5 linked regions of the Homo sapiens genome follow. The protein of the gene in region 2 interacts with the protein of the main gene of each other region in a pairwise test. Each region holds a gene or a part of one and is shown on either strand. Other genes may lie near its edges. The genes, in order: NCOA5, KHDRBS3, SERPINB5, SGSM2 and HNRNPR.

What was found.
Region 1: the proteins of KHDRBS3 (region 2) and NCOA5 interact in a two-hybrid assay, tested with the Homo sapiens proteins (one large-scale study listed by BioGRID).
Region 3: the proteins of KHDRBS3 (region 2) and SERPINB5 interact in a two-hybrid assay, tested with the Homo sapiens proteins (one study listed by BioGRID).
Region 4: the proteins of KHDRBS3 (region 2) and SGSM2 interact in a two-hybrid assay, tested with the Homo sapiens proteins (one large-scale study listed by BioGRID and IntAct).
Region 5: the proteins of KHDRBS3 (region 2) and HNRNPR interact in a two-hybrid assay, tested with the Homo sapiens proteins (one large-scale study listed by BioGRID).

The regions. Positions count from the first base shown.
Region 1 is NC_000020.11:46,061,342-46,067,012, reverse strand, and holds part of NCOA5 (nuclear receptor coactivator 5), read left to right. Parts: intron 1-1,784; coding exon 1,785-1,984; intron 1,985-3,332; coding exon 3,333-3,653; coding exon of another isoform or gene 3,654-3,676; intron 3,677-4,123; coding exon 4,124-4,713; 3' UTR 4,714-5,671. UniProt on the Homo sapiens protein: Nuclear receptor coregulator that can have both coactivator and corepressor functions.
Region 2 is NC_000008.11:135,546,219-135,552,653, reverse strand, and holds part of KHDRBS3 (KH domain-containing, RNA-binding, signal transduction-associated protein 3), read right to left. Parts: intron 3,901-6,435; coding exon 3,754-3,900; intron 1-3,753. UniProt on the Homo sapiens protein: RNA-binding protein that plays a role in the regulation of alternative splicing and influences mRNA splice site selection and exon inclusion. Binds preferentially to the 5'-[AU]UAAA-3' motif in vitro.
Region 3 is NC_000018.10:63,481,632-63,488,066, reverse strand, and holds part of SERPINB5 (serpin B5), read right to left. Parts: intron 3,646-6,435; 5' UTR 3,639-3,645; coding exon 3,471-3,638; intron 1,122-3,470; coding exon 984-1,121; intron 1-983. UniProt on the Homo sapiens protein: Tumor suppressor. It blocks the growth, invasion, and metastatic properties of mammary tumors.
Region 4 is NC_000017.11:2,373,980-2,379,941, reverse strand, and holds part of SGSM2 (small G protein signaling modulator 2), read right to left. Parts: intron 4,451-5,962; coding exon 4,067-4,450; intron 3,806-4,066; coding exon 3,681-3,805; intron 3,210-3,680; coding exon 3,127-3,209; intron 2,984-3,126; coding exon 2,874-2,983; intron 2,086-2,873; coding exon 1,989-2,085; intron 907-1,988; coding exon 739-906; intron 531-738; coding exon of another isoform or gene 511-530; coding exon 422-510; 3' UTR 1-421.
Region 5 is NC_000001.11:23,311,613-23,318,047, forward strand, and holds part of HNRNPR (heterogeneous nuclear ribonucleoprotein R), read right to left. Parts: intron 2,091-6,435; coding exon 1,941-2,090; intron 1-1,940. UniProt on the Homo sapiens protein: Component of ribonucleosomes, which are complexes of at least 20 other different heterogeneous nuclear ribonucleoproteins (hnRNP). hnRNP play an important role in processing of precursor mRNA in the nucleus.

The sequences.
Region 1 (5,671 bases), on a different chromosome or scaffold from region 2:
AGAGAAATTCAGGCTCCTGTTTAGCACCTCTATCCACTGAATCTGAGCTGTGTATTCTTGCATTGCTGTGCGCTGTTAGCCAGGGTTCTTTCAGTTATAGGTGACAGAAAACTCAATTCAAATTGAGGCCAAAAGGGACATTTTTCATTTAAGCAAAAATTAACTGGGAAATTGAGGCACAGCCACATCCAGGATCAAACCATGTCATCAAAATTGGTCTCTGTGTTAGTCTCTAAGCACTGTTTTCCTCAGATTTGCCTTTGTTCTCAGGCAGGTTTTGTGCTTGAAGAGGCAGAATGGCACTGGCCCTGAACGTGTGTCTTCTTAGCTTAGCAAGCCAAGTGGAAAGAGAACTTCTCTTTCCCAGTGTTTCCACCTGAAGTTCTGCAGTTCTTTTTAGATTGACCTGACTCACTTTCCCATCCCTGAGCCTGTCACTTTGGCAGGGGTGCTGGGTGTTCTGATTGGCCAGGGCTAAGTCATGTTCCCATCCCAAGAGCTAGAGGTGGGATTAGCCCTGTGGAACCATGCAGACTGAGAGTGGAAGAGGGTGTAGCCGCTGGTCAAGCAGAGTAGTATATACTCCCTTCATGGGACAACCCAAATGCCCAATACTTTGGGAGACACGCCTCTGCATTTGTCAGCCAAGAACCAAGTCTTTGTGAAGTACCATGGCCTTGCAGAACTGTTACATGACCATGTTACCAAGCTAGGGCTTATAGCATTGTTTCACTGCATCCCTGTTTTACATTTTCTCCTTGAAGAGGCAGAGCAGAGAAGCAGAAAGGAGTATAGCAGCTTGCAGGCTTGGCAGTAGCTATGTTCCCTTTCCCTAGGTGGTACTAAGTAAATAACTTCATGTATTTTCTAGCAGTTTGGGGTTAAAGAGCTAATTTCAAGGCAGTGACTAGGGAAATAGGTGTTGAGACACCAAGCAGTAGGCAGAGTTCACAGGCTCTTGGCTGTCTTGTTCAGTGATAGATGCTGCTTTTAACTCTAGAGAGCTTTTTTTGGACACATGATAATAGCTGTTATTTTCTGAGCACCTACTTTATGTACTACCCCATACTAGGTGCCTTACATAAATTATTTTTAATCTTCACAGTAATCATAAAAAATGAGCATTCAGCAAATCTTTTATACGTATGGTGGATGGCGGGTATTGGGGCTGTATAGCCTCATTCCACTGGTGGAGCTTACACCCAATGGGGCAGGTGACAAAAGCATACAGGTGATGAGTCCTATGAGAAGAGAATGTCAGAGATCTAATTTAGATTGGAGGGAAGGTCAAAAAAATGACGTATGAACTGAGCCATGTTACTCCTGTTTTATTAGTAAAGAAACTGATGTTTGTAAGAGGTAAATGGACTTGCTTAAGCTTCACAACTTTGCAAATAAATTTTAAGGGCTGGGATCCAAACCCATGTTTCTAGCGTTAAACCCATGATCTTCCCACTGTGTTGTGCAGCCTACCCAAAAAGAGATAAGTGCCACAAGTCTTAGGGAGCAGGATGGTCTTAAGGAAGGACCACAGGGCTAGAGAATCAAGAGAAGGACCTGGGTATCATACTGTGCTACTGGCAACTTCTGACGTGATCTCAAGCAAGTCACAACCGTTCTGAGCCAGGGTAGAGAGAGAGTATTGGTCTAGATACTTGGATCCTGAATACGGTACTGGGGTAGACTAAGGTTTGAGTTATCAGTAGGAACACACACAACTGGCTTGAGACACACGATGCAGATTTGGAGTTGGTCGCTCACCTGGATCTTATTTATTTTTACAGAGACTATGCTGAGTCTGTGGGGCGGAAGGTGCGAGACCTGGGCATGGTAGTGGACTTGATCTTCCTTAACACAGAAGTGTCACTGTCACAAGCCTTGGAGGATGTTAGCAGGGGAGGTTCTCCTTTTGCTATTGTCATCACCCAGCAACACCAGATTCACCGCTCCTGCACAGTCAACATCATGTTTGGAACCCCGCAAGGTACAGAGTCAGAATACCGGAGGTAGTCACTAGTCCATTATTAGTCCTTTATGCCTTACTCAGAAGAAGCAGGTTTTGGGCAAATGACTCTTATATCTCAGTTCATATATGGTAGGGCCCCTCTCTTAAGTACCATGGAAGAGTCTTGCATAGTCACTTACTTATCTGATAGTTTCTTAGTGGATCTCTGTTACACTATACTTAGCCACTAGGTATATACAGTGGTGTGCTGGCACACGTGTAACAACAAGTTCCAGTGTGGGGGGAGGGCGTTTATAGCATTTGCTGATCTCCATGGTGTAAATACTCCCACCATGTTTCAGTTCAAGCCACCAACCTGAAGTCACTGAAGGGAGAGTTGGAAAGAAATGTACACAGTTGGCTCTTGCCACTGAGATCTGGCTCCAGCACACCTCTGCCATGTACTCCACTGAATGTGACAAAATCCTTGCTTCTGCCAGCTTTCTAATGGAGGACAGAGAATATAACAGGCATTTAGGGTCCTTTTTGTAAGTGTGCTGGAGAAGTAACCAGAGGGGCTAAGAGGCCGTGACCCTGTAGAGGCCCAGGCCCAGTTCTCGAAGTCCTCCTCAGAAGTAGCTTTTAATGCATTGAGCCCAGAGGATTAAGAGTCCGCCAGCTGATACCCTGCTCCTCACTCTTACAGCACAGACTTAACCCTTTTCCCACTATACGCAGGATCTCTCTTTGCCTCACCCATTACCCTCATAACCATACAATTACATAAGGATCTCCAGTGGGTCATTTGTCTGAGGAATAGTCCTCAAGATGTGTGAGGACAAAAGTTCTAAGGAGTCCTCTCACTACCCAGTAAACCATGTTGCCCATGGGTGAGGAGAGGAGGTTATTTAGGGTCACAGTTTGATCTTAATCTATGACTTTTGAACTGATGAATTAAAAAATGGTAGGCCAGCTCTGTCCTGAGGAGCACAGTGGAGAGCCCTGCTTTCCAGAGGGGCCTGTTGGCCTCCTGCTGCTGGTCTAGAGGCTGTTGGGCCTGCCTCCCATGGCTGTTCCCCACGTGGTCTGTTTGAATCTGTGGGAGGATGTCATGTTTCTTTGGTTTTTACTACAAGTCTGTGATCTAGGAATTCCCCCAAAGAACCAGCTGTATATAAAGGTGCATCTCCTCACCAAAAGTGTTCGTTCACTTCCCTTCCTGGCCTTCATCTCTCCCCCCACACCACCCCACTCTCAATCTCAAGGCTTTTTGTCACCAAAATGATTTTCTTGCTGGTATGAGGTTAGGAAAGACTTGACAGAGTGCAGCAGGTGGGCACTTAAATATGTCATGGAAGAAAATAACTCATGTCATTTCCTCCTACAGAGCATCGCAACATGCCCCAAGCAGATGCCATGGTGCTGGTGGCCAGAAATTATGAGCGTTACAAGAATGAGTGCCGGGAGAAGGAACGTGAGGAGATTGCCAGACAGGCAGCCAAGATGGCCGATGAAGCCATCCTGCAGGAAAGAGAGAGAGGAGGCCCTGAGGAGGGAGTGCGTGGGGGCCACCCTCCAGCCATCCAGAGCCTCATCAACCTGCTGGCAGACAACAGGTACCTCACTGCTGAAGAGACTGACAAGATCATCAACTACCTGCGAGAGCGGAAGGAGCGGCTGATGAGGAGCAGCACCGACTCTCTGCCTGGTGAGCTACGTGGCAGGGCCGAGGTGAAGTTCTGACTCTGCATTTCTCTAATCCCCAGGCTCTGTTGGGAGGGTGTCAGGCCCAGGGCTCTTTGGAGTGGGTAAGGGAACTAAGTCCATCCCTTGGGTTCTCCCGTGGGCCACCCATGCTGATATAATGTTAATAATAACTTTATATTTGGGTACTGAATGCTGATCCCTATAGTTAATGTGGTGGATTGACTAGTATTGCTGGCTCCGTGGTAGCCAGGATGGATGCCCTTTTGTTTTTTAGCAGTTCTCTAGGGGAACTAGCCTATTGTTTTCTGTAAACAGCACATATCATGAAGCGGCCTCTTTGGGAAATTGATGTTATCGTCTGTGTACTGTATGATTGATGTGACTCAGTGATTGTTGTTCTTCCTTTGGCTGCTAGGCCTCCTGCCCTTGGGGGGTACTTTGAACCAGATACCTCCCTCTTCTGTCTTCCAGGCCCGATTTCCCGCCAACCACTCGGGGCGACCTCGGGTGCCTCGCTGAAGACACAGCCAAGCTCCCAACCGCTCCAGAGCGGCCAAGTGCTCCCCTCTGCTACACCCACTCCATCTGCACCCCCCACCTCCCAGCAAGAGCTTCAGGCCAAAATCCTCAGCCTCTTCAATAGTGGCACAGTGACGGCCAATAGCAGCTCTGCATCCCCCTCGGTTGCTGCCGGAAACACCCCAAACCAGAATTTTTCCACAGCAGCAAACAGCCAGCCTCAACAAAGATCACAGGCTTCTGGCAATCAGCCTCCAAGCATTTTGGGACAGGGAGGATCTGCTCAGAACATGGGCCCCAGACCTGGGGCTCCTTCCCAAGGGCTTTTTGGCCAGCCTTCCAGTCGCCTGGCACCTGCTAGCAACATGACTAGCCAGAGGCCTGTGTCTTCCACAGGTATCAACTTTGACAATCCAAGTGTACAGAAGGCTCTGGATACCCTGATCCAGAGTGGCCCTGCTCTCTCCCACCTGGTTAGCCAGACCACAGCACAGATGGGGCAGCCACAGGCCCCCATGGGATCTTACCAGAGGCATTACTGAAGCTAAATCTTTCAACTCTCCCCAGTCCCCTCATCCCCTGGCCTCCTCCCACTTACTTGTTCTAAATAGAGCTGTTTGGAGGATGTTCTCTGCGCTCCCAGGCCGGCATCGAGTGTCATCAATTTCTACCACCTGCTCTCTCTTCTGCCCAAGGCTGTGTTGCTTATTCCTTACAAAGTTTATACTGCATTTGGGGCTGTATCTTTTTTTGTTTTTTGTTTTGTAGAAAATAAATATCTCCGGGGGCAGTACAGGTGTCTGGGCTTGTATTTGATGGGGTTTCTCCGGTCCCTGTTTCTACTGGATTTGGAGCCAGGCCCAGCTAGCCAAGTTTGGAATGGCATTTGTCATGTCAGTAGCCACCACCTTTGTTCATTGTGAACCTACCAAGGCTTTCCAGCTTCATACACATTGACCAGAGCTCAAGCTCCTGCCTGCAACTCCTGCCTAGAGTTGAAGAAAAGCAAACTGGCCTTGGCAGGCACAGTGTCATCATACCCTCACCCCATATGTTTGGGGTCTGCTTGAGGATTCATAAATCAGCCACTCTGGATTGTTGAGGAATGGCCATGGCAGCCACAGAAAAAAGAATTTTTCTCTCTGAGCCAAGGTTGTTTTTTGTTTTTTTCTCTTTTCTTTTTTGTTTTCATTTCATTGGAAGATCTCCAATGGACTGAACAGCTCCAGTCAGCAGCAGTTACCACAAACTGTGAATCTGGGCCCCACCACTCTTCCCTGTTAACCAGTTCTGTCAGCATCCCCCTCTCCAGCAGCACTTCCATGAAGTTGGTTCTGAGACTCTGGCCGTGAACACCCGTTTCTTCAGTGATTTGTTTTGGGCTTTTGGCTCAAAACCCCAGGCTCTTGTTTTTGTCTAGACTCTTATTCTGTTTCCTGAGCAGCAGGAGGTAGGGACCACTTTGATGTCAGACTTCTGGTAGCTGGACATGTTCTCGAG
Region 2 (6,435 bases):
AATTAAAAAACACCTCAGCAACAAAAACTCCTCTGGGAAGAAAATACATCAGATTACAGGTTTGCTATGTTATCGAAAATACAGACTTTTCAACAAAAAATTAAGAAACATGCAAAGAAACAGGAAAACGTGACCTATACTCAGGGGGAGAAAAGCAGTACAAAGAGGCTGTCTTGGAGAGGGCCCAGATGTTGGAATTGCAACAAAAGAAAATTTAAAAAGCGTATTGCCAACAATGAAAAATTCACTAGAGGAGTTCAATAACAGCTATGAGCTGGCAGAAGTAGTTAACTTGAAGACTAGTCCATTAAAATTATCCAGTCTGAGGTACATGGAGAAAAACGGATGAAAAACCCTGAATGTAAGAAATCCATGAGACACCAGCATGTGTATCAACATACACGTAACTGGAATTAGGGGGTGTGGTGGGGGGTAGAAAGACAGAAAAAGTTTAAATAGCTGAAAACTTTCCACATTTAATGAAAAACATAAACCTACAGATGCACAAAGCTTAGCCAACAAATAGGATAAACATACATCACACCCAAATTGCTGACAACCAGAGGCAGAAAAAATCTTGACAGCAGCAAGAGAAAAACAACAGATTATACACAGGAGAACAGCAAAATGATTAATGACTCTTCTCATCAAAAATAACAGAGGTCAGAAGGTAGCAGAGTAGCATATTCAAAGTGCTGGAGAAACAAAAAACAAAAACGATCAATCAATAATTATATAACCTGTTTTTTAGGATGTAGGTAAAATAAAGACATTCCCAGAAAAACAAAAGACTTTTTGCTAGCAGACCTAGGTTACAGGAAAGTCTAAAGAAAAACCTTCAGGCTGAAAAGAAATAATACCATATGGCAGCTCTATCCACAGGAAGAAATGAAGGGCACCCAAAATAGTATAAGTTAATATAAAAGACTCCAGAAAAATACTGTGCGACAAACCAATATCCTTCATAATTACAGATGTAAAAATCCTTAACAAACTATTAGTAAACCATATCTAGCAACACATAAAGAAGACTACATGCCATGACCAAGTGGGAATTATCCTCGGAATGCAAATGTGGCTTCACATCTGAAATCAACTAATGTAATACACTATTATTCACAAAATAAAGGAGAATAAAACCACACAATCATCTCAGGAGGAAAAAGATTTGCAAAATTCAATACCCATGTTTATACATTTATTCATGATAAAAACTCTCATCCTTTAGAAATATAAGAGAACTTCTTCAACATGACAAAGGGTAGCAATAAAAAAAACCTATAGCCAATGGTGAAAGACTGAATGCTTTCCCCTCCAATTTTAGAAACAACACTGCATTCACGGTTCTAGTCAGTGTCATAAGGAACGGAATGGAGTGGAATGGAATAGAATAGAATAACAACATTACATTAAAAAAATTAAAGGCATCCATATTGGAAAAGAACTAGTTAAGTTGTCTTTATTCACAGATGACATGCTCCTGTATTCCACTAATTAGGATTCCACTTAATCATTGTAGTGATTCTATTAAAAAAACACCACACTGGAACTAATAAACACGTTTGGCAAGATCACAAGATACAAAATCAATATACAAAACTCAATTGCATTTCTATACACTAGTAATCATCTGAAAATGAAATTTTAAAAATTGCACTCACAGTAGTATCAAAAAGTATACAATATTTACAAATCAATTTTGCAAAAGGAAAGGAAAAGGCTGACACCCTGAACACTATAAAACACTGTTGAGAAAAATTTTAAAATATCTTTTTTAAAAGTGAAGAAACATTTCATGTTCCTGGATTGGAAAACTCAAAATTGTTAAGATGAAAATTATCCCCAAACTGATCTATAGATTCAATATAATATCTATCAAATCCTAGCCAGCTTTTTTTTAATAGAAATTAAGAAGCTGATCCTAAAACACATATGAAAATGCTAAGAAGCCAGAAAAGCCAAAAAATGTTTGAAAAAGAACAAAGGTGGACAATTTACACAACCTAGATTTCCAGATTTACTTAAGGCTAAAGTAATTAAGAGCATGCTACTGGCATTAAGAGTAGGCATACAAATCAATGAAAAAGAATTTGAGAATGCAGAAATAAACCTTTACATTTATGTTTAGTCAATTTTCAACAATGGTACTAAGGTACTGAATGAGGAAATGATTGTCTTTTCAACATATGGTGCTAGGACAACTGATATCCATCTAGAAAAAAATAAATTTAGAGACTAACCTCAAATATACAAATTAACTCAAAATGTATTTTAAGTGAAAGAATACTGAAAAATTTTTAAAATAAAACAGTAGAAAATCCTGGTGACCTTCATTAGGCAAAGACTTTTTTGGCCAGTCCAGATTCTGTGTGAGGTAAATTAGAGTCTACCTCTGGGGAAGGATCGTAAGGGTCATGGGATAAATGGTGCTACTGCAGCCATCTTTGGAAAAGAGAATCTGTTTCACCTGGCTAGATCTGCACTGCCTGGTCCACACTGCATGATCACCAAAACTTACTCCTCTCCTTAGCTGTGGTCTCGCCATAGTTTCAATTTTGTAGTCATTTATATGAAAAACTGACTCATATCTGACTCTTTGCCATTAAACTCCATGAGGGATCATGTATTTTATTAGTTCACATCTGCCTACCACATAGTAAGCCCTTAGAAATTTTGTTTTTAAACTAAAAGAAGAAATAGATTGTCATATTTGCTCATGGGAACTAAAGAAAATACTAGCCATTTCAGTTCCCAGGTTATTACATACTTAATGCAATTCTATGTCCTGGCTTTTTAAAGGCAAAAGTGATTTAAATATCCTTTCCCTATAAATATAATAATTGTTTTCCTCACAGATAATATAATCACAGTACATGTGCTGTAGTATGTAAGTCAATCCACCAAACTAACCTGGGATAACCAAAGACAGTCTTATCCAGAGAACTACTTGGCAGATGTGTCAGCTTCTCTAAAATAAATTGTCTGCAGAGCCAAAGTGTTGATGCTTTACGATTCTTTTTATCAAGAGCATGCAAATGACATAATAAGTCCTTTTATCAAGAGCATACAAATCACACAAAAGACTTAAATCAACTTTCGTAACAGAGGTAGAGATGTATTCCCTTTAAATTGTCACATCCTTAGCAATGTGAAGGTGTCTGAAAGGGTTAAAACAGACAGTCAATTTTTAACAAAACATCCAAAATACTTGGCAGAAGCTAGCTAAATAGCCCATCCCCTCTGGGCTCATTATGGTTATGTCTGTTATATTTATCATGTTGTACTGAAATCATCTGTTGATGTTTCTCTTTTCCTCTAAATTACGTATTATATTATACTAAATGAGGGCAGGGACTGCTTTTATTCAAGTCTGCATGCCAACACCAAGCACTGTGCATGGCACACAGAGGCACTAATGGTTTTGTGTTGGAGAACAAAAAAGTTGTACAGTGTCACATAAAATCGTAGGAAAAGCGTTTCAAAACCTGAACTAGTGATTGTGCTATGCAAGTTTTTTAGCCATGTAACCTTGGCCATATTATTAAATCTTCCTGAAATTCTAACACCTCATATATACATAAGGAATAATGCCCAGTAATTTACAAGGACAATGTAAGGTCTACTTGAGGTGATGTCCATACAGCTTTACAGCAGAAAAGGAGCTATGCAAATAACAGTTACAGACAAGAAGTATCAAGGATTAAAGCAAAGACTTTAAAGTACAAGTTAACTATCAAGAAAAATGGTACTAACAGGGATGAGGAACTTTTTGATTTCTTCCAAAGCATGTCCCATCCTGGCATAAGCTTCTGCAGGTGGGGCAAACACTTCAATGAGAACATGGAGATCATCATTGAGATGGAAGTACTTCGCTTCTCCACTTTTCCTCAACTCTTCTTCCTGGAAAAAGGAAAAAAGAAATCACATTTAAAAACGTGTCATTATAAGAAATGAAAGATAAATAAATAAATAAATAAAAACTAACCCCCAAAATAAAAACAATCCATCTGGCAAGCGGTTGTCACAGTAGACACTACTCTAAAAAAGAAGGTTTAAGCTATAAATGTGATCCTGATATTCCCAGGCTTTTACACACACTCAAAGGCTTCCTACTGCTGCTGGAATAATGTCCCACTCCAGACGCTGACTTGTAGGAGCCCCATCATCTGCTCACTTCCGCTGCTAGGGTGTCTTCACCTTCTCCAGTCTCCTTTGCTCAACCCTCCGCAGCCACTGCCCACACTTCTTTTGTGCTTCTCAACCTGGCTGAGCTCACGTGCTCACTTCTACACTGGCTGTGTGCGTCTCTGTGATGCTGGTACAAGGCACTTATCACTATCTGAAATAACTTATTTTTAAAAACATGTCTATTTTCTATCTTCTCTTAGTAAAAAGTGATTACCATGGAGCAGACACTGTGACTGCTTTGCTTAGTGATGCATTTTCCATGTCTAGAGAAGTGCTTGGTATACAGATGTTCAACAAAGATTCGTTGAATGAATGATTAAACATTCATTCATTGCTATGTCAATTTGCTCGTTCGCATATTCATTCAAAAAACATTTCTACATACCAAGCACTATATTCTATCTGAGAATAAAACAGTGAATAAAACAAAATGAAAGACTTTATTACGTTATTTTACATAATTATGACAAAGTTTTTAATCTTTGTTTGTTTCCATAAGGAAATGCAGGACGAAAATTAGGAGGAGAAAAAAACAGATCGTTAAGGAACTACTGATTTTGCTCCACTGCCTTTTCCTAACTAACCTTCAATTTTAGGTCCTGATTTCAGAATCTGGGTCTTCCATTAGTCTCTGTTTCCAATGTTAGTATCAGACAGATTAAGATTAACAGGAATCTGAGGCTAATTTCCAAAAGATAAGAAATCTTTCTAGTCTCTCAAAAAGGCTATCCCATAACCAAGAGAACCCCAGGAATTCCTGGCAATACCACCTTTTAATTTCACAATTAAGCAAGAGGCCAATAATAAAATAAATGCTAGAGGCACATAGCCCTTGACTTCACCCTTGAAGGATTCAACTTCTGTTACTTGACTAATTTGAACTCTTACAAAGAAAAGAAAGACTAATACACAGAGCGGGAAATGGGCATGGGATTTAGTCACCTATAATTTCATCTCAGCTATGCCAGTCACTAGCCATGTGAGTTTAGACAGACTGTATGTAATCCAATACTTAATTTGCAAAATCTGTTTATTGGTAGCACATGTATATTAATGCAGAACTACTGAGAATACAAGGCACAGCTTTATATAAATGCTGGCGAAAGGAGACAGTGTATATACTACCTAGTACACTGCCTAACATATAATAGGCACCAATACATGCTAGCTTCCATCACATTAATAGAAGTAGGCCAGAAACTGAATGAAAGGAAAAAATATAAGGGAATATATGTAAATATAAGCTGCCATAATATTCTATAAATTTCCTTTGAAATTTGTTTTGACTATACAAAACATTATCTTACGCCAACTCTTCATTGTTCTAATCAGAACATTTCAACCATCTGATCTGAATCTCTCTCATTGCTCAAGTTTTAAAAATTGCATTCTATGTACAGCAATTCATCCCTGAAAGCACAAATTATTGAAACAAACACTTATCCTTTTCTAATAGAGTATCAAAATAATGATGTTAATGAAAGATTATAATTGTTCATTATTATTCAAGCATTATTATTTCTATCACAAACTTAAGCTGGACAGAGAGGATTTCTTATCATAGCTGTAGCCAGGGTACAATCCCACAGAGAGGGGAGTTATTACCAAACTACTCTACAGATTAATGATGACAGGCAATGTGTTATTTGGAGAAAAACACAGATGTTGAAATTCTGCATTAAACCCCTAATTCAACATTAACTGTATGACTTGGGCAGATTACATTACCCTCATCTTAAAGGGGTGATTTTTAAGTGGGGAAAATAATAGTACAGTACTTATCTCATAAGGCTGTTATAGTAATAAAGGAGTTAACAAACAAAACGTCTTTAGGATGAAGCCTTGCACATAATAAGCGCTCAGTAAATGATAAATATAGTAATGATAATTATTATATCACTATCATTTATTCTATTATTGTATAGTATAAATGATGCAGGCAAAACATCCAGCATGAAGTTTGGCACAAGCTGAAAGCTCAACAGACCGGAGCACTGTCATGATTATTATGCTATGTAACCAACTAATATACATCAATAATGACTCCCATAATTTCATAAATGTAGCAAATAAATGCAGAAAAATTATATTCACATTAGATTTTAATAGTGAACACTTTGAAAATCTAAATGGATGAGATTAAAATAATAAGTAATGGGAATCTCTTTAGAAATAAACATATTAACTGATAACTTCTGAAAACTAAAACTAGTAAAAAGGATCAACTGAAATCAATATTCAAGAATT
Region 3 (6,435 bases), on a different chromosome or scaffold from region 2:
GAAATGTTGTATGCTCAGGCTTCAACTCACATCTCAGTTTTTTTTTTTAAATTCTTCAGATGATTGTTGGAAGAAAAATGGTTGTGTGTATGTATCTTTAAGCAACAAAAAATATACTCACAATATCTAGTAACCCATGTCCTCAAAAGATCTTAACCACAAAAATACCTACTGCAGAAAGTTGCAAAATCATGGTAAAATATTTAAAAGCTGGTAGTCTAGCTTTTCGATTTGGAAACCTTGAAATTCTGACCATCCAAACAGGAACTAAATCAACTCTGTGTTACTGAAGTACAGAGGGAAACTTCATGTAGTCTAGAATATTGTCTGTGTGTTTCAAATACAGATTTTTAAATATTACAACAATGGGTACCGTAGTGGTGTTTGTATGATTCCTTAGAGCAATGGCTAAACTTATATAACCAGAGCTGCCTGTGGAGATCCCCATCTGACCAGCCCAGCCAACAAAACTAATTTGTGACTGATGAAAATTGTGAATTCATAGTTATTATTTTTCTTACTGATTTTGAGAAACATCAGAAGAATGTGTGCATAAAAAATGAGGTGGAGAGCTTAAAACATTGTCCCAGGCCATATGCCCTGCTCTTTAAGGAGAAAGAAGTTTAAATCATTAGCTGTCTTACACTCTGTAAGACAGCTCATTGTCTATGGAGCTACATTTATTAGAGAGTTAATTACTCTGTTCTCCATTCTCTCAGAGGAAGGTAAAAGAAAGGGTAAGATTTATTTGAGAGAGAAAAGGAAAGCCCATAAGCTTCTCTGTATTTTGAGTTAGAAGATGTGACTGCAATTGATTCCCACTATACTCAACCTCTCCACTAGGATTTATTTATTTAAAGCCTCAAATCACAAGTGAACATCCTAGAAAGGAATTTCACTGAAAAAAAGTTGTAGGTCTAACAGCATGAAAATGCCACTCCTTGTAAAAAGTTAAGTCTTGCTACTTGCTTTAAACAACTTACTGTAGAAAGATTCAGAGATTTGTCTACGTAGAGCCGCTTGATTAGTTTCAGTGAGTAAAAGGAACTAAGTTTGTTTACATCCGATGTTACTGTTTGAAATCCAAAGGGTACATCTTTGACATTTTCAAAATGAAGAACCTGTTAAGAGAAAAATCCGTTACCCAAAAAGCATTGCCTCTGAGTAGTGCTGTACTGAAGTGGACACGTGATAATGACCAACGTCCTTGGGCATACAGACTCCTCCTGCCTAGTTCCCGTAAAGTAAGGCTCCTCAACCTCAGCACTATTGACATTCAGGCTGGATGAGTCTTTGTGGGGCTGTCCTGGGCACTGCAGGATGCTTAGCAGCATCGCTGACCTACTAGATGCCAGTGGCATCCTCCTCCTATTTGTGAGAACCCAGAATGTCTCCAGACATTGCCAGATTATCCCAGAGTGGGAAGGGGAGGACAAATTGTCCCCACTGAGAAACACTACCATAAAGGTACTCTTCCAAATCAACCATCGAGAACATTTGTCCTTTCTTCAAAGTGATGCCCTTAATACTCACACAGAAGGATTTCCAAACTTGGAGAACGATGAAGCTGGGTTATAATTTCTATCCAATTCAAAGACCAGAGAGAGAGATTGATACAAGAGACACCATCATCAGGCAGGAATCAGATTTCAGGACAAGTGCCTCTAGCCAGAGTCTGTCTAGTCCCTCTGGGTGCTTTAGCAAATGCCAGGTAAATAGATGTGTCATTTCTGATGGGCAGCTACAATAAATGGTGGGCTGCCCTGGGCTGGCTAGAGTCAGATGGCCCTGCCTGTGAATCCCAGCCTTCACCACCTCTTCTCCAACTCTTCAGAGAATCTTCTCCAACTCTTCAGAGCCTCCTTTCCTCTCCGTAAAATGGGCTGAAAATACCTGCTTTCCTGAGTTGTTAATGAGGATTACTTATATGTAAAACACGTAAAATATTATATGGATTCAAACTGTTAATTATTCTTGTAATAATATTGTAAGCCATTTAAAACCAGGATACTATCATTTGGAGGGCTTAAATCATTGTATTTTTTTCCTTTTTTTTTTTTATTGTTCCAACCAATAGTCCAGCATCTTTTCTGCCTTGCAACACCACAACATGTAATGTCAGCATAAGATGACACCCTCCTCGCTCCATAACTCATAATGGCCATGCTGTGATTCCACAACCCAGATAACGAACGCTGCCAAACCGGCACATTGTCCCAATGAATTACATAGCCTCAGCATTGCAGGGTCAAATGCTGGTCCCAGACAGTGCATAACTCTCATGCCTAAAGATGGATGAAGGAGACCAGAAAATTTAAGAGCCCAGGTAACTACTGCTGGGGAACCAGTTGCATATACTGAGAAGAGCTTGAGGAATTACTGAGGAACAGACCCACTACCCGGAAGTTCTCTTTCGCTGGCCTTTCTCTAATGGTAGATGAGAAATGAGGAATGGGAGATTGGGTAGGGATAGTGGAGTTGCGCAGTTCAGAGATGTGGCTTGATGTCAAGATACATCTCCTCTTCACAGGAGTGAAGCTGCTTCAAGTCCCAAGTGTAAATTCTTCATCCTTACCTAAATAACTCTTATGGGCCATACTTTCTGGACACATATGAATACAAGAAGGTGTTGCCTTTTTAAATGCTTATGAGCTAATAGAAAAGAAATTCTATTGAACCTAGAATGATTAGCATAAGAGTAATAATGAAATAGAATTAGAAGAACATTCACCTATTATGTAAAAGTACATGAGGACTTAAAACGGAACAATCAGGAAAATTGTCTCATTTGAAGGTCTAAGAACTTTACAAAGCTAGATAATCAACCATAGCCAGAAAGAAACCCTAAAACGATACAGATGCTGCTTGATTTATGATGAGGTTACATCTCAATAAAACCATTGTAAATTGAAAATATTATAAGTCAGAATGAAAAAGCTGTGATTACCCAGCAGATCTCCAGGTTCTCCATCACAGCCTGGTGCCTGTCCCAGATGTGAGTTGCATTACCTACAAGCGAGCTTTCACATTTAAAAATAAATTAAGATGCCTGTAATCCCAGCATTTTGGGAGGCCGAGGCAGGCGGATCACCTGAAGTCAGGAGTTCGAGACCAGCCTGGCCACATGGTGAAACCCTGTCTCTACTAAAAATACAAAAATTTGCCTGGCGTTGTGGCACGCGCCTGTCATCCCAGCTACTCGGCAGGCTGAGGCACAACAATCGCTTGAACCTGGAGGCTGCAGTGAGCCAACATCGCACCACTGCACTCCAGCATGGGTGACAGAGTGGGACCCTGTCTCACAAAAAAAAAAAAAAAAAAAAAAGATTAAGAGAGTCCTGGAATGGCACAGTTCTGAATCTTGACCAATTCTGGCCACAAAGTCTACATTCCTTTTTTCCGTAGGCACTGCCTATGGGTTCTAATAACTGTATTCCCACTTAAAGTAGAAACAAGGTTTTGGGGCTTACCTGTCCAATTTCATTTGCAGTGTCACCTTTAGCACCCACTTGAGCAAGTGACAGAGAGGTGGAGAGACAGATTGGAGAGAAGAGGACATTGCCCAGTGGCTCCTTTTCACATAGTTGTTTGAACAGATCAACGGCAAAAGCCGAATTTGCTAGTTGCAGGGCATCCATTGCGGGCCTGGAAGCAAGGACAAGGGAGCAGTTAGTTTCTAAAGCATCTTTAACGTCTTCTCAACTGCATTCTGCCAACACTATAAGAATTCTATTTAAACAAAGTAATTGATCTCAGAAGAAACAAGGAACTTTCTGTAAATTCAAAAGTAAGATCAGTTGTGAAGAAACTTCCAGGCAAATGTCTGAAGGCATGTGAGGTCCTCTGTGTGTCCAGCTCTGCCTAGACTCTGCAGTCTTGGGCCTGCTCAGCCACAGTGGCCATTGTCGGGAGCCCAGTGGTCACATCTCTTCTCCAGCATATGTCAGAAAAGTTGACAGCACTAATCAACATCAGTTGGTTTTATTTATCACATATTGTTTCCATTAGGATTTCAGTTAAACTACAAAGTTAAAACTTTTATAAAACAAAAACAGTCGAATTGCAGCAGTTTTGCATTGTTCAGTTTAATATTTAGTAAGTGTAATGGGTTGAATTGTGTCCCCCAAAAAGATATGTTAAGTCCTAATCCCCATTACCTGTGAATGTGACCTTACGTGGAAACAGGGTATGTCCTATTTCTTAACTAATATATAATTAGTTAAGATGAAGTTACATTGGAGTTAGGTGAGCCCTAATCCGATATGACTGGTGTCCTTAAAGGAATAAGAGGAGAGACACAGAAACAGACATACACAGAGGGAAGATGTGAAGACACAAATGTCTTCACCTGTGTGAAGGGCATGCCGTATGGCAATGGAGGCAGAGATTGGAGGGATGCTTCCACAAGCCAAAGAATGCTAAGAACTGCTGGCAACACCAGAAACCAAGAGAAAGTCATGGAACATTCTCCCCTGGAGCCTTTTGAGACAGCATGACCCTGCCGACATCGTCATTTCAAAGTACTGGCCTCCAAGCCTGTGGGTGAATAAAGCTTCTGTTGCTTTAAGCTGCCTGGTTTGTGGTGCTTTGTGAGAAGTGCTAGAAAACCCTTAAAGTAACTAATGCCTTTGCAGGACACCCAGCACATAACAATACTTAATAAACAGCAGCGGTTATTGTTTGCGTTTATAATACGCATCTGTGTGTAAGACACTACCCAGAGTGTTACAAGGATCAGTGGACCTCCTCCTTCTCTAAGCTCATAGTCTCTTTGGGCAGATATGCAGACAAATAACTAGAATACAGAGCTGCCCAAGACATGTGAGTGGTATAATAAGTAATATGGGAGTTAAAGAAAAGAGGGAACAGTTTCAAAATATGTAGCCTGGTAAAGTGGATATAGCAGCAACTAGGCATCTTGTCACATCTCAGAGCTCTTTAATTTTAACACAGCAACTTCCAAAGTGTTGTGTCTTGACTCCTGGCAGTCCCTAACACCCTTTCAGGAGGTCCATGAGGTTAAAACTATTCTCATGATAATACTAAGACATTATCATTCTCAATCTCTAATAGACAGCGGAGTTTTCCAGAGGCTATATGACATCCCTTCTATTAAGCCAAATATTAAGGAGATTTGCAAAAATGAAAAACAATATCACTCTTCTCATTACATTTTTTCACTTTAGAAAATGTTTTTTAATATATATATTATTCATATTAGTATTTAATTATTATATTATTTTAATAAATTAGTAAATGAACATTTCAAAATGTGTCTGGTTTTCATTTCTAGTTTGGTAAATAGTGATAGATATAATCTACATTTTTTTTAAAGAAACAGTTCTTTGGGGTCCTCGGTAATTTTTAAGAGTGTAACAGGGTCCTCAGATTTAAAAAGCTTCACTGTTCTAATAAAGGTCTACCTACCTATTTAGTCTGGTAGTTACTGATCGACTCCAAAGACAATTAGGTAAATTCAGGCAGTCAGGGCTTCCCTTTCTGGGAGCAGAGCTGAACTACATGAACTCCTGAGGTTCTGCCTAAGCCAGGACAGCATGTTTCTAAGGGAAATGAATTGATATTACTACCCCGGGGTGAGCAGTACAGGGATTAAACTCGAAGTGTTCCCCCAAAGCCTCAGGCGCACACACACAGACACAAGGGCCGAATGTGACATTGAAGGTCTTCAGGTAGGACATGCACCCTGGCATTAGAAAGTAAGCTCCACTGCTTAAGATAGAGGACTCCCTTTGGCCAGTACCCAAACGTGTGTCAAGAGTCAAAGGCATGATGAATAGGATTGCAATTTGCACCTTATACCTGGACACAAATTCAGAATGCAAAGACGAGAATAAGATGGAGGAGAGGACTCCTGGTCTTTAAACATTTCTTCAGAATTCTCCCTTTTATGGGATATATGGCTTGTGTGTAGGATGGACTTAAATCGATTATATCTCAGAGTCTGAAAAAGCGAGTTCATTATCCAAAAATAATGTTTTATTGACTCTGTTCATGCTCACTGGTCATTTCCATGGGCTTCCTCCTTCTCCATATGTCCCTGATAAGTACAGCCATGCGCTCAGGCCAGTTCCCATTGCAAATATACCACGAGGCCCCCTGAAGTCAGGTGGGCCTCTCACTTTTCTTTAAAGCCCACAACCTTACTCCTTCTCCCCTCAGGGCAGGGGCAAGGGCCTACAGGTGACATCACACCCCAGGGAAAGGTGACTGGCATTAGGTGTATACTGAGGTCAGCAGGGTATACTGAGGCAAAAATGAAAGCCTGTTGAGTGTTTCACCCAGTGTGCCTGCCACTGGGAAAACATAAAGAAACTCTTCACAAAAGGTTTGGGGAATCTGTGGACAGACTTTCAGAATAGGAAACCTGGCTTCCTTCCACAGCACATTTAATATTAGTAATGCCAAGTTCATCTA
Region 4 (5,962 bases), on a different chromosome or scaffold from region 2:
GGGACACAGCACAGAGCCTCTCGCCCTCTGCCACCCCAGCTGAGTAGGGCCCAGGCCGCTATAGCCCCTGTTAATCCTGTGGGGCCCCAGGTTCACTCGTGGGCAGCAGTCCAGGCTGCGGCTGCAGGTGGCAGTGGGGCTACTCCCAGATGTGTGAGAGGGGAGCAGAGTAGGTGTGTCCCCCAAGGCAGCTGCTCCCTGAGGCTGACCCCTCCCATCCCGGCCCTGATCCGAGGGCATCCTGGCCCCTGACTTGCCCTGCAGGGTCAGCACTGCCGGGAGTCGGATCCAGGCTCACAACCGCTTTGTTAGGAACAGAGGTGGGGTCGGTTGGTGGCTGGGGAGGTCTGGGCGGTGACTCCCCTGCACCTCTCCCTGCCGGAGCCCAGGCTCTGCACGGCTGCTGCCTCCTGGCCCCAGCTCACTTGTTCTCTATGAGCATCTGCACCTTGTGGACGAGGTCCCGGGCAATCCGCAGGATCTCCTGGGCATCGTGATGCTCAGCACGTTCTGGGGGGAAACGTGAAGAGCTGTAGAGAGGCCCAGAGAAAGGGCAGCAGGCTAGGAGGTGGCTGACTACCCTGCTCTGTTTCCATCTGCTCTGCTAGATTCTTGACATCCCGGCCTTTGGGGAAGGGCCCCCAGGATTCCTGAGAACCCTCCAGCTGTGTGCGGGGCAGAGGTGGGGGCCTCCACACCTCTGCTCAGGGCAGCCTGGATGGCTGGACCAGCTCGTACCATTGAAAAACTTGATGATGTCAGTGAAGTCCATGTTGTTGTCACGGATGATCTCTCGGTAGGCCTCCACCAGGGCGAGGGCGATGAACAGGACAAAGTGCTCCGATGAGATGTGCCTGGCTGCCCAGATCACCTCCCACACAGCAAACACATCCTCATACAGCAGTTCTGCGGAGAGTAAGCGGCTGCTGCTCACCCGTCCTAGCCGCATATCTGGGGCTGAGGCTGGGATTGAGGCTGAGGCTGGGATTGAGGCTGGGGCTGAGGCTGAGGCTGAGGCTGGGGCTGGGGCTGATGCTGGCCGGACTGGCTGCTCACAGGCCTCTAAATGGAGCCAGGTGAGGGATCAGAGCTTCAGGGGCCAAAGTCGTGGGATTCTCTCCATGACACAGAGCCTGGCTCAGGAATGGGGGTTCTGTACCCCGTACCAAGGCCCCATCCTTTTCTTGGGTAATTTCTGCACACTGGGTTCCTGCAGACTCTGCCTGCACTTCAGCCGGGCAGCTGTCACAGGCCTCCCATCTTGGTGCTCAGGAATGCTTTGGTTTGAAAAAAGTTCCCCAAACTATGATCTATGAGAGTTGTAACTGTCAACCCTAGTGGCACTTCGGAATCACCTATGGAAATTTTGTTTTCTTTTCAATTTTTTCTTTTCTTTTCTTTTTTTTTTTTTGAGACACAGTCTGGCTCTGTTGCCCAGGCTGGAGTGCAGTGGCACAATCTCAGCTCACCATAACCTTGCCTCCACTACAGGCACCCGCCACCATGCCCGGCTGATTTTTGTATTTTTAGTAGAGACGGAGTTTCACCATGTTGGCCAGGCTGGCCTCAAACCCCTGACCTCAAGTGATTTGCTTGCCTTGGCCTCCCAAAGTGCTGGGATTACAGGCATGAGCCACCGCACCCAGCCTCATTTTTTCTTTCTTTTTTAAAAATTAAAGACAGGGTCTCGCTATGTTGCCCAGGCTAGTCTCAAGATCCTGGGTGCAAGCGATCCTCTCACCTTGACTTCCCAAAGTGCTGGGTTTACAGGCGTGAGCCACTGTGTCTGGTCAGCGAGCATTTAAGAACCCATAGGCCCAGGCAGCCACAGTTCATGAGTCTGGGCTGGGTGGGGCCAGGGTTCTGGCAGGTTTTAAAGCTCCCCAGGTGGTTCCAAGGTCCAGTTAGGATTGAGAACTGTTGGCTTGGGGGAAGAGGGATCTCTCACTGTCCCTGACCTCAGCCCCATGATCCAACCCACTTCTTACCTCTCTTAAAATCCAGCAGGAACCAGCGATAACAGAAGTAGAAGTGGGTGTAGTCTCCATTCTGATGCATCAGCTCAAACAGCTCTGAGTCCAGGATCTTATGTGGGTGGGAAAAGGGAGAGAGGCTGAGCCCTGAGCCGATGCTGCCTCTGGCCGCCACTCACCGTCCGCTCACGCCCAGGGATGCAGGCGATCCCCAACCTGGCAGTGGGTCTGTCTGTTGCCCTGTGCTGCGCGGTGCACTCTCTCCCCCTCGGATCTCCTTGTGGAGGGTGGGTTGCTCCTGCTGCCCCTCCCATCACCCATCTCTCTGAGCTGCATTATTTTTAGGGTTATAGGATTTTCTGGGTGTCTGATGTCATCAGCAACCCCTACTGTTCGCCAGAACTTTCATGGGCACGAGCATTCACACACACACACACTCCTCCTCAATTTCTAACGCTGAAACCATGGTTTTTTTTTTTTTTTTTGAGACAGAGTCTCGCTCTGTCACCCAGGCTGGAGTGCAGTGGTGTGATCTCGGCTCACTGCAACCTCCACCTCCCGGGTTCAAGTGATTCTCCTGCCTCAGCCTCCCGAGTAGCTGGGACTACAGGTGTGTGCCACCACGCCCGGCTAATTTTTGTATTTTTAGTAGAGATGGGGTTTCACGATGTTGGCCAGGCTGGTCTCAAACTCCTGACTTCGTGATCCGCCTGCCTCGGCCTCCTAAATTGCTGGGATGACAGGCCTGAGCCACGTTGCCCTGCTGAAACCATGTCTTTTAAAATGAAAGAAGTTAAGTTTCTATGTCAAGTATGTTTGTGGAATGCTCCCTAGCCATGTGGACGATGGACCAGCCCAGCACTGCCTGCTCCCATGCCCATGGGTGGCAACCGGCCTCACCTGGATGAGGGAGCGCATGTTGGCAAAGTGGGTGTCCATGGCACCCCCGTTGGGGAAGTTCTGGCTCATCCTCTTCATGAGGTGGCTGAAGCAGCTGTAGGCCAGCTGATCTGAGGGGAGACAGGAGTGAAGCTGGCAGGGCAGGAGACGCAGGGGACAGAGCCGGCTCCCATTCCCACCCCTCCAGACCTGGCCACCCTCTCGTCCTTTCTCCAGCTTACGCAGCCCAGTCCCATGTCCCGCCATCCCTCACCATTGTCGAGGGTGACCAGGAGAGGCGCCAGCAGATCGCACATGCCCTGCACATAGCCCACGTCCAGGTGCTCCCACACGTAGCTGAAAGGCAGGGGGAGAGTCACTGTGGCTGTGCCCCATTCTTCCCTCCCTCGGGATCCCTGGGAAGACGTCCTCCAGAGCCACCTGCCGCCCAGAAGTCAGCCTTTCCACGACCCTAAGGCATGTACTGTGCACCCCCCACAGGGAGACAACGGGGAACAACCCACGGGTCCCCCCCAAGGCACTCCGACTTAGGGAGAGCCAAGGCCGTCACGCTTGGTATGTGGGGCGGGGGTGCGGGGATGAGGGAAAGCTTCCTGAAGAGGTGTGGCTGAAGTGGAGGTCTGGTAGGCCCCTAAGAATGAAGAGGCGCGGGGGAGGGGTGTGCAGGAAAAAAGCGTTCCAGGCAGGGGGAGCCAAGTGTGATTCAGGAGCAGGAGAGAGGAGCAGGGCACCTTCCGGACCTCATCTTCACAGAGTAACTGGCGGCAGGGTCCCGCCTCCCACCCTGAGCCCCGCCCCACAAGGCACCTGCACATGACGTCTCTGAGCCTCTCGAGGTTGGGGGGCGTGAAGTACCAGTAGTTGCGGTCACACCTCTGCACATCCTTGTCTATGCGGTGCAGGTTTAAGGCCACAGTGTCCAGTAATTCTATCTGGAAGAGTGGAGGGCCCTCAGGCATGAGACCGGGCAGCCCTTCCCAGGCTGGGGGCAGGAGGTGACGCCCCAAGAAATGCAGCAAAACGGAACCCAGAGACCAGAGCGAGTCCTGTGGGGATGCTGAGAAATGGGCTCAGAACTCCCTTCCAGGGCAGTCAGGGCGCCCCGCCTTCCACCCCACCAGCGCTTCCCCAGCTCTGGGATGTCAGGAGGGCCTCTGGGGCGGCTGGGAACAGCCTGGGGAGCATGTACGCACAGTGTAGGCAGCCGCACACACAGCCGCAAGCTCCTCTCCGGCCTCCAGTTCTCCGGCCTGAGGCTTCTCCTGGCTGGGATCCTGGGGCTCCCTCAAAGTGTGAGCTGCAGGGCCGGGCCCACTGGAGCCTTCCTCCCCACCGCCGTCCTCCTCTTCGAAGCCCACGCTCTGCCCCTCATCTAGGCTTGACTGGATGCCCGAGGCCACGGAGTAATTGCGAGAGGAGGGCAGTCCTGAGTCTGGAGAGTCGAACTCCACGGAATGCTGCTGCTCCACCACGGCGGTGCCCGGAGTCCCGGGTCCTGCTTCCTGCTCAGGTTTTGGTCTGGAATCTTCAGGGTCCTGGGGCTCCGGGGGTTCCAGATCATCCACTGAGATAAACACCTGGGGGGTGAACACAGGGCGGCTCCACCTGCACTCCAGCACCTTCCCGCAGCCCACCGCCTCCTCGGGCCAGAAGGGAGCTGGAATGCAAAACTCTTCACACCCCCTCTCCCACCACAGCCTCCAACACTGTGGCCACGGGGCACCAAGCCAGCTTCTGACCCAGCCAGCCAGGCGGAGAGAAACAAGCCTCTGGCCAAACATGAAGACACGTCTTCAGCCCTGCTTGAAGGAACAGCCCCAGGTCTTCCTGTGGCTACTGAAGGGAAGTAGGGGAGCCAGGGGGCTGAACGCTCAATGGCCAGTTTGAACTCAGTCTCATTCTAGAAACGCCTGAAGTCATGAGACCGGGAGAATGGCCTTAGTGTTTTGGTGTGGCTGGGTGGAGAGAAGCCTAGAGGTTTTAGGAAAAACAAGTTTTGCCTTATTTTCAGTACTGAGTGTTCAGCAGGACAAGACAGGAACGTTCTGTAGCAAGCACCTAGTCAGTTCCATTAGCCCTCAGGCAAGGTGGGGAGATGTAGGAAGGAAAAGCAAACATTCTGCCTCCTAGATACAGTCCACCACCATGGACAAGGCACGAGGAAAAGAAGAGACACATACAGAGACTGTTTGGGATTTTTCTCTCTCTGTTTTCACCACGTAGGGAAAGCAATGCTAAAAGTAGTTTCTACTTTGGGCAGGAAGCATGAAGTGCTGGGTAAGGCCACGGTTCTGTGGCAATCTAATACGCCAGCGAGGAGCTACTGCTGTCCATGAGCTCAGCAGCTGGGCACTGGCACAGACAGATTTTTACAAAACCCAAAGCCAGAGAGAGGGAGAATGTGTTCCTGGATAGGGGATTAAGAACAAAGCACGTGGGAAATGACAATGTGCCTTGTTTGTTCTATTTCTTTTTTTTTATTTTATTTCTGAGGCAGGGTGTCTCACTCTATGGCCCAGGCTAGAGTACAGTGGTGGTATCACGGCTCACTGCAGCCTCAACCTCCATGGCTCAGGTGGTCCCCCCACCTCAGCCTCCCGAGAAGCTGGGACTACAGGCGCACCCCAACACATGCGGCAAAGGTTTGCATTTTTTGTAAAGACAGGGTTTCGCCATGTTACCCAGGCTGGTCTCAAACTCTTGAACTGAAGCAATCCTCCCACCTCTGCCTCCCAAAGTGTTGGAATTACAGGCATGAGCCATCACACCCAGCCAGTTATATTTAACTTACTTCAACTTACATTTTCTGTTAATGTTGGTAAGGATTTAGTAAAGTAACAAGAATACACATTATCTAAAGAGGCAATTTTAAAGAAAAATTAATAAAGCGTCCTTAAAATTGAAACTTATCAGTGTTGGTTGGGCCAGGCAGTCACAGTTTAGAACTTGCTGTTCAAAAGGCAGGAGTGATGCCAGAAAGAGCTACCCTCCCGTGCTCCGAACAAGCCTGCCATAGTCAGTTCTGTACAGTGACAGGCAACATCGCGGGGAGGAAGGATCTCGCCAGTCGACACCAATGGGGCTGCTCT
Region 5 (6,435 bases), on a different chromosome or scaffold from region 2:
CCAAATAACTCCTTAAAAGATAAGCCATACCAAAGAAGCAAATCCATACCGGGGAAAAATGCCAGTATTAATACGAGCCAGACAAAGATTAACTTCTCAGGATTAGAATTTTAAAATAAACATGTAGCATACAACATACAGGTCTTCCACTGTTCTTATACGACAATTTCAAGGATTTGAAGCACAAATGAGGTTACTGAGTGAGATTATCTGTAAAATTCAAGAAGATACTAACACAAAAAAGCCTAGGTTTCCCTCACAATGCTTAACCCAAAATGTACTTTGCTTGAACAGTTAAAAGTACAGAGCCAGAAAAGGCCTGGACTAATGAAGACTCAAGCAATTATGTAGAAAGCAGTAATCAAACATTCCATGTTCTAGCCCTTTGTTCACGTTGTTCCACCTAACAACCTCTGCCATACATCAAAAGGTTCAGGTACTCAGTAACAAAATGTCACCTCCTCATGATATTTTATTTTTTGTTTCCCTATACCTTTCCCCACTCTGGGCACACATAAAAAAATGTTCTATTGGAGCTATCAGTGATTTATAAGTATCTAGACAAAAACGAAACTAGTCCTCAAGACTGCAATTTTCCCTTTTACCACCTCAGCTTTGCGTTGCTTCAGTTAAAGCAACTAAACAAGTTTACAAAAGCTTCCTGGCATAAATTAAAAAATGAAACATCTACCCTCTGCCCTGACCATCCTGGTGACTCCCAGTTCCTGGACTAGATATTTTATAATTTCATAGGCTTCTTTGGCAAACCATCCTATAAATATTTTCAATCAGGACAACCAGTTATTTGAAACCAGTCGAGTCAGGAGGAATATTTAGACAGCATAAAATTATTAGTTATCTGCATTCTATACCAGTGAAATTTCAGAAGCCACAAATGAACGGATAAGAGTATAACAGCATAACAGATAAGACTCCATACTTCAAAGCCAGATTATTACTGAGTTTGTGATCTTGGACAAGTTATGAATTTTATGAACAATACTGCCTCATTAATTAGCTACCATCAATGAGCAAGCCAATTAATTATAAACCAATCAGGGATTCTATAAAGCCTGTTTTAAAAGCAGTAGCCTGGGCAAAAAACAAAACCAAAAAATGCTCAGATTAGAGATGGCAGTATCCCACCGACCAAACATGCAGAAAAAGAACCATGCCTGTGTCACTAAGCATTCTGGATCTATCTTCCTAATAACATAAATAAGATTTTAGTAGTGTTTTGTCTTGCTCCCACCCCCCCAAGGAAGGAGAGATGAATAAAAAAAAGAAACTGAAAATTTCACCCATTAAAGATAGTCCTAAACCATTGTCGATAGAAAGCAGGTTTTGTGTTCCAGATACCATATGAAAATACTTTCTTCAAACTTTTCATTATCATCAAAGACTAAATCAACTATTATACACAAGTGATATCTCTAACAATTACCGAAATCAGTAAAACATAGTGAATGCTATTTTAACTCTAAAATGATTAAATAAAGGTAAAACTAATCATACCCTCAAAATCTATCTACTCAATTAAACATGGTATACTGTATGAGTCATGTACACCACTCAGTTTCCTTCATAGGTACACAAACTGAGGTCAACTAAGTAGTTATAATGCATTCATTACCTATTCAGTGTTTACAGCAGCTAATTTTTATACCTTGTAATACTTCCAAGGCATCATGCTATCGAATCTTACAAAACAATACAGAGATTAAAAATAACTTGCCTAAGATCACAAACTCAGTAATAACCTGGCTTTGAAATATGGAGTCTTATCTGTTACATACTATTACCACTTTACAGAGATTAAATAGAAAGAGTTCAGCAAAAGCTGACAACCAATATTGTTTCAGTTTTTAAAGTTACTTTGTGTTTGGCAAGTTTCAAAAACAAAATTCAAATATCAAGAACCAAAATTTCAAAATTCCTACCTTAACAGCTGCTCCTCTGTCTTCAAAATGAACAAATGCATAATCTTTCAACTTCTTTACTCTTTCGAGTTTTCCAAATTCAGAAAATGACTTTTCCAATATTTCTTCTGTCACCGTAGTAGCCAAGTTTCTCACAAACAAAACTTTTACCTAGTAAGCAACAAATAAACAAAACCGTCATTGGCTACTTAATTTTACCTGAAAAGTGTTTCTTCCTGTCTTCATAGCATAGCTTTTCTCCTCTAAAACATTAAGTGCTAAAAGTGTTGTTACAGGTAGTAAGAGAAATTGCTAGGAAAATGACACTGATATCAGTCACCAATTTACAAAAATTATTGGTTCCTGCCTTCTCCTATGTTGTCATTAAAGCACCTAACACTGAGTAGAACCTTCAAGGAACCAACACATAATTATTATTACCAAGTTAATCAACAAAAAGTCCCTTTCAAAACAAGTTTTTCTGTTTCTTTCCTCTAAAACTGAGTAACTTTCAAAAGTTCATATGAAAAAATAAATAAGCAAGAATAACCAGGAAAAAAAAGAGTGAAATTTAGAGGCTGGCCCTACCAAATATAAACAAACTATAATGCTTAAATCATTAAATCAGGTAGTGTTAAATTAGAAAAAAAGGAGAAAAGCTGGTCCATGCCTTACACTATACACAAGGATAAACTCCAAATAGATTGAAAATTTAAATAATAAAAGGGTGGAGGGAGGACTGTGAAATTTTAGAACAAGAATGATTCCTTTATATAACACTGGAGTGGGGATGACCTTATGACTTAAAATCTAGGAGCCATAAGAATGTTATACTCAACTACTAAAAATAAATGACTTCTATATGGCAAAAAAATACTATAAGCAAAGACAATAAATATGGATGAAAAATTTGCAACATGTATCACAAACAGCTAATCTCTCTTTTATATCAGAGCACCAGAAAATAACAAAAAGCTCAACAACTGAATAGAAAAATAGGCAAAATTCCTGAATACATGGTTCATACACAGAAACACATATGGCTCTTAAAATATATTTAAAGTTCAAACCATTCATAGTAAGAGAAGCAAATCATTAATCATTAATGGCACTGAGACATTTGTTATCAGGCTGGCAAAATTCAAAAGTTTGATTATACACTATTTTGTCAAGAATGAGGAAAATAATTCTCTTGTATTTTGCTGGTAGGAATGTAAAATAGTGTATCTCCTACAGAAAGGAATATGGCAGTATCTTAACAATTACAGATATATCTACCCTTTGGCCCACAATTCTACCCCTAAGAATCTATCCTACAGATATATCTCCACTTGTATCAACTAACATAAGCTTATTCCTTCCAGCACTGTAAGAGCAAAAGATTAGAAACAATATCCAGCTGGTTAAATACACTATAGTACCTCCACAGAATAGACTACTATGTAGTCATAAAAAATGAAGAAGAGGGCTGGGCGCGGTGGCTCACGCCTGTAATCCCAGCACTTTGGGAGGCCGAGGTGGGCAGATCACCTGAGGTTGGGAGTTCAAGACCAGCCTGGCCAGCATGGTGAAACCCTGTCTCTACTAAAAATACAAAAATTAGCCGGGCGTGGTAGGAGGCACCTATAACCCCAGCTACTCGGGAAGCTGAGGCAGGAGAATCACTTGAACCCGGGAGGCAGAGGCTGCAGTGAGCCAAGATTACACCACTGCACTCCAGCCTGGGTGACAGAGCAAGGCTCCGTCTCAAAAAAAAAAAAAAAAAAAAAAAAAACAAAAACCCAAAAAATGAAGAGGAGCTCTATGAGTTGTAGGATAGGACAACTTACAGTCAATGTGATAAGCAAGTACTGTGCCATAGTTTAGTTGGCAGTGTTTTTTAACTATTTAGTAGTACATATAGTAATGATGTATTTCCTCAGAGCTGATGAAACAGGATGGTGAATAAACAAAAGGTAGATCAGTGGATATGGTAGGCTACCAACATTACTACCACTCATCTAAGAATTAAGGAAGTATATCCATATTTGCCGAAGGAAATACTAAAAGGAAACCAGCAACTATTAAAACTGGATGCCTTATAGGAGACAAAGGGGATTTGGTAGACACAGGGATAGGGGTAGAAAGGAAATTTCTTTGTCTATACTTTTCTATATAACTTTTGAACTAAGAAAACATAGTACCTATCCAAATAAAAAACTAACATATTGAACAAATTGTTGCTTCAGATAAAGGGCTATCTAATAAGAAGATACTAATTTAAGGAGGAAAAAAACTAACATTTTCCACAAACGCTCCATCCCCTTTATTATTCTCAATTTGTCATACTAAGGTCCAGCCTCTATGTTACACAGACTCCCACTGGTTTAGTTGCTTTTTAAAAAAAATTCAACATGGACTTTTCTATGATGAAACGATAACATACTATGTGAAAATTACTTACTGAAATTGTGTTTAAAATGTTCAACAGGAAAAAGGGTCCCTTTAAGAGACATATATTTAGGCTTTTAGGTTATGGTACATTGTAAAACTGACCCAACTTGGCAAAAAAAATCTTCAGTGAATTGTAAATTGATAGTGTGAATAACAGAAGCTTTACTCAAATGGATAAACTTTTCTTTTCAATTAGGAAACAATAAAGGAGCTGGATGGGGTTGCAAGCACCCGGGAGGCTGAAGCAGGAGGGACGCTTAAGCCCAGGAGTTCAAGGCTGCAGTGTGCTATGACTGCACATGTGGGCAGCTACTGCACTCCAGCCTGGGCAACATGAGACCCCATCTTTTAAAAAAAAGAAACAATAAAGGGCTCCATAATATTTAATCCTAAGTTTATAGAGACCTCCTTTTCATTCTGAAACCTGTTTTAGATCTAGGAAAAAGGAGTTACCAGAATGAAATCTTGAAGTTTTCTAACCCTAAAAAAAGATTAGGATGAACTTCCATCTGAGCAGTTACTAAAGGTTATGTGAGAAGTGGCTGGTAAGCAAATTACAAGCTATACTTTTGGTTTTCATGGGATTTTATTCCTCTTTTATAATATTTTATTCCTCTATTATAATACATCTATAATACTATTTTAAAATATTTTTACAGAAAAAGTAATACAGGCTATACTTAGTTACTACAGGTAGATTCAAAGTTGTGGTGGATCTTAGAGATTGATCCAGGCTCAATAAAATAGATGACATTCATGTTCAGTAGTTTACCCAAAGTCATAGTTGTATTAGGAGAAGAAACAATAGGAATTAAAATCAAGCTAGTAAAAAATCAAAATAAAAACTCAGAGCTATTTAAATTCTCTATCCCTTTCCTAGACACCCATCTACTCAAGGAATATGAGATAAAAGATACTGAGTAGCACTTCTGAGAGCCTCTCTGGTTCATTCTGAATAGAACTTATCTGATTAACCCAAAGATGTCACTGCCAACCCAGACTTTATACAAGTATAAACCAGAGTTCTCCTCCAAACTACTTAGAACGAGGGTTTGCCTCCTCAAATTCTGGAATAAAAACCTTGACTTCTGACTTATCAAGAAGAATCCAACCATTAACTCATGGCCATTCAGAGTTGCTGCCTCCCTGTGAAGGGAAGAGACAACTAAAATGCTCAAGAGCTCATTGCAAGCAGCAGAAATGCAACTCTGAGGCCGGGCGCAGTGGCTCACACCTGTAACCCCAGCACTTTGGGAGGCCGAGGCGGGCGGTTCACAGGGTCAGGAGATGGACACCACCCTGGCTAACATGGTGAAACCCCGTCTCTACTAAAAATACAAAAAATTAGCCAGCTGTGGTGGCGGGCACCTGTAGTCCCAGCTACTTGGGAGGCTGAGGCAGGAGAATGGCGTGAACCCAGGAGGCAGAGCTTGCCGTGAGTGGAGATCGCGCCACTGCACTCCAGCCTGGGACAAAGCAAGACTCCATCTCAAAAAAAAAGAAATGCAACTCTGATGTGTCCCAGGAGTCGCCCAAAGGAAAACTTAAGAACCAGTACTCAAGGCACCACTATTAAGATCCTGGCAACGCAAGTACAGGAATCAGGAGGGAATTGAGGGCCCTTTACAGGACTTGCCATGCATATTTTGCCACTAACAAATAAGAGCAAACATGACAATCTTTTGCCTTTCTTCATGGGGACAATACACTAAGGGAATCTGATCATTTAAAAACAAGAGGCGGGGCACGGTGGCTCATGCCTTAATCCCAGCACTTTGGGAGGCCAAGGCGGGTAGATCATGAGCTTAGGAGTTCGAGACCAGCCTGCAATATGGTGAAATGCTGTCTCTACTAAAAATACAAAATTTAGCCGGGCATGGTGGCAGGCGCCTGTAGTCCCAGCTACTTGGGAGGCTGAGGAAGGAGAATCGCTTGAACCTGGGAGGTGGAGGTTGCAGTGAGCCGAGATCGTACCACTGCACTCCAGCCTGGGCAACACAGCAAGACTCTGTCTCAAAAAATAATAATAATAAATAAAATATTTTTAAAAATAAAAACTACAAAAAAAGCTTAAAAAAAGAAA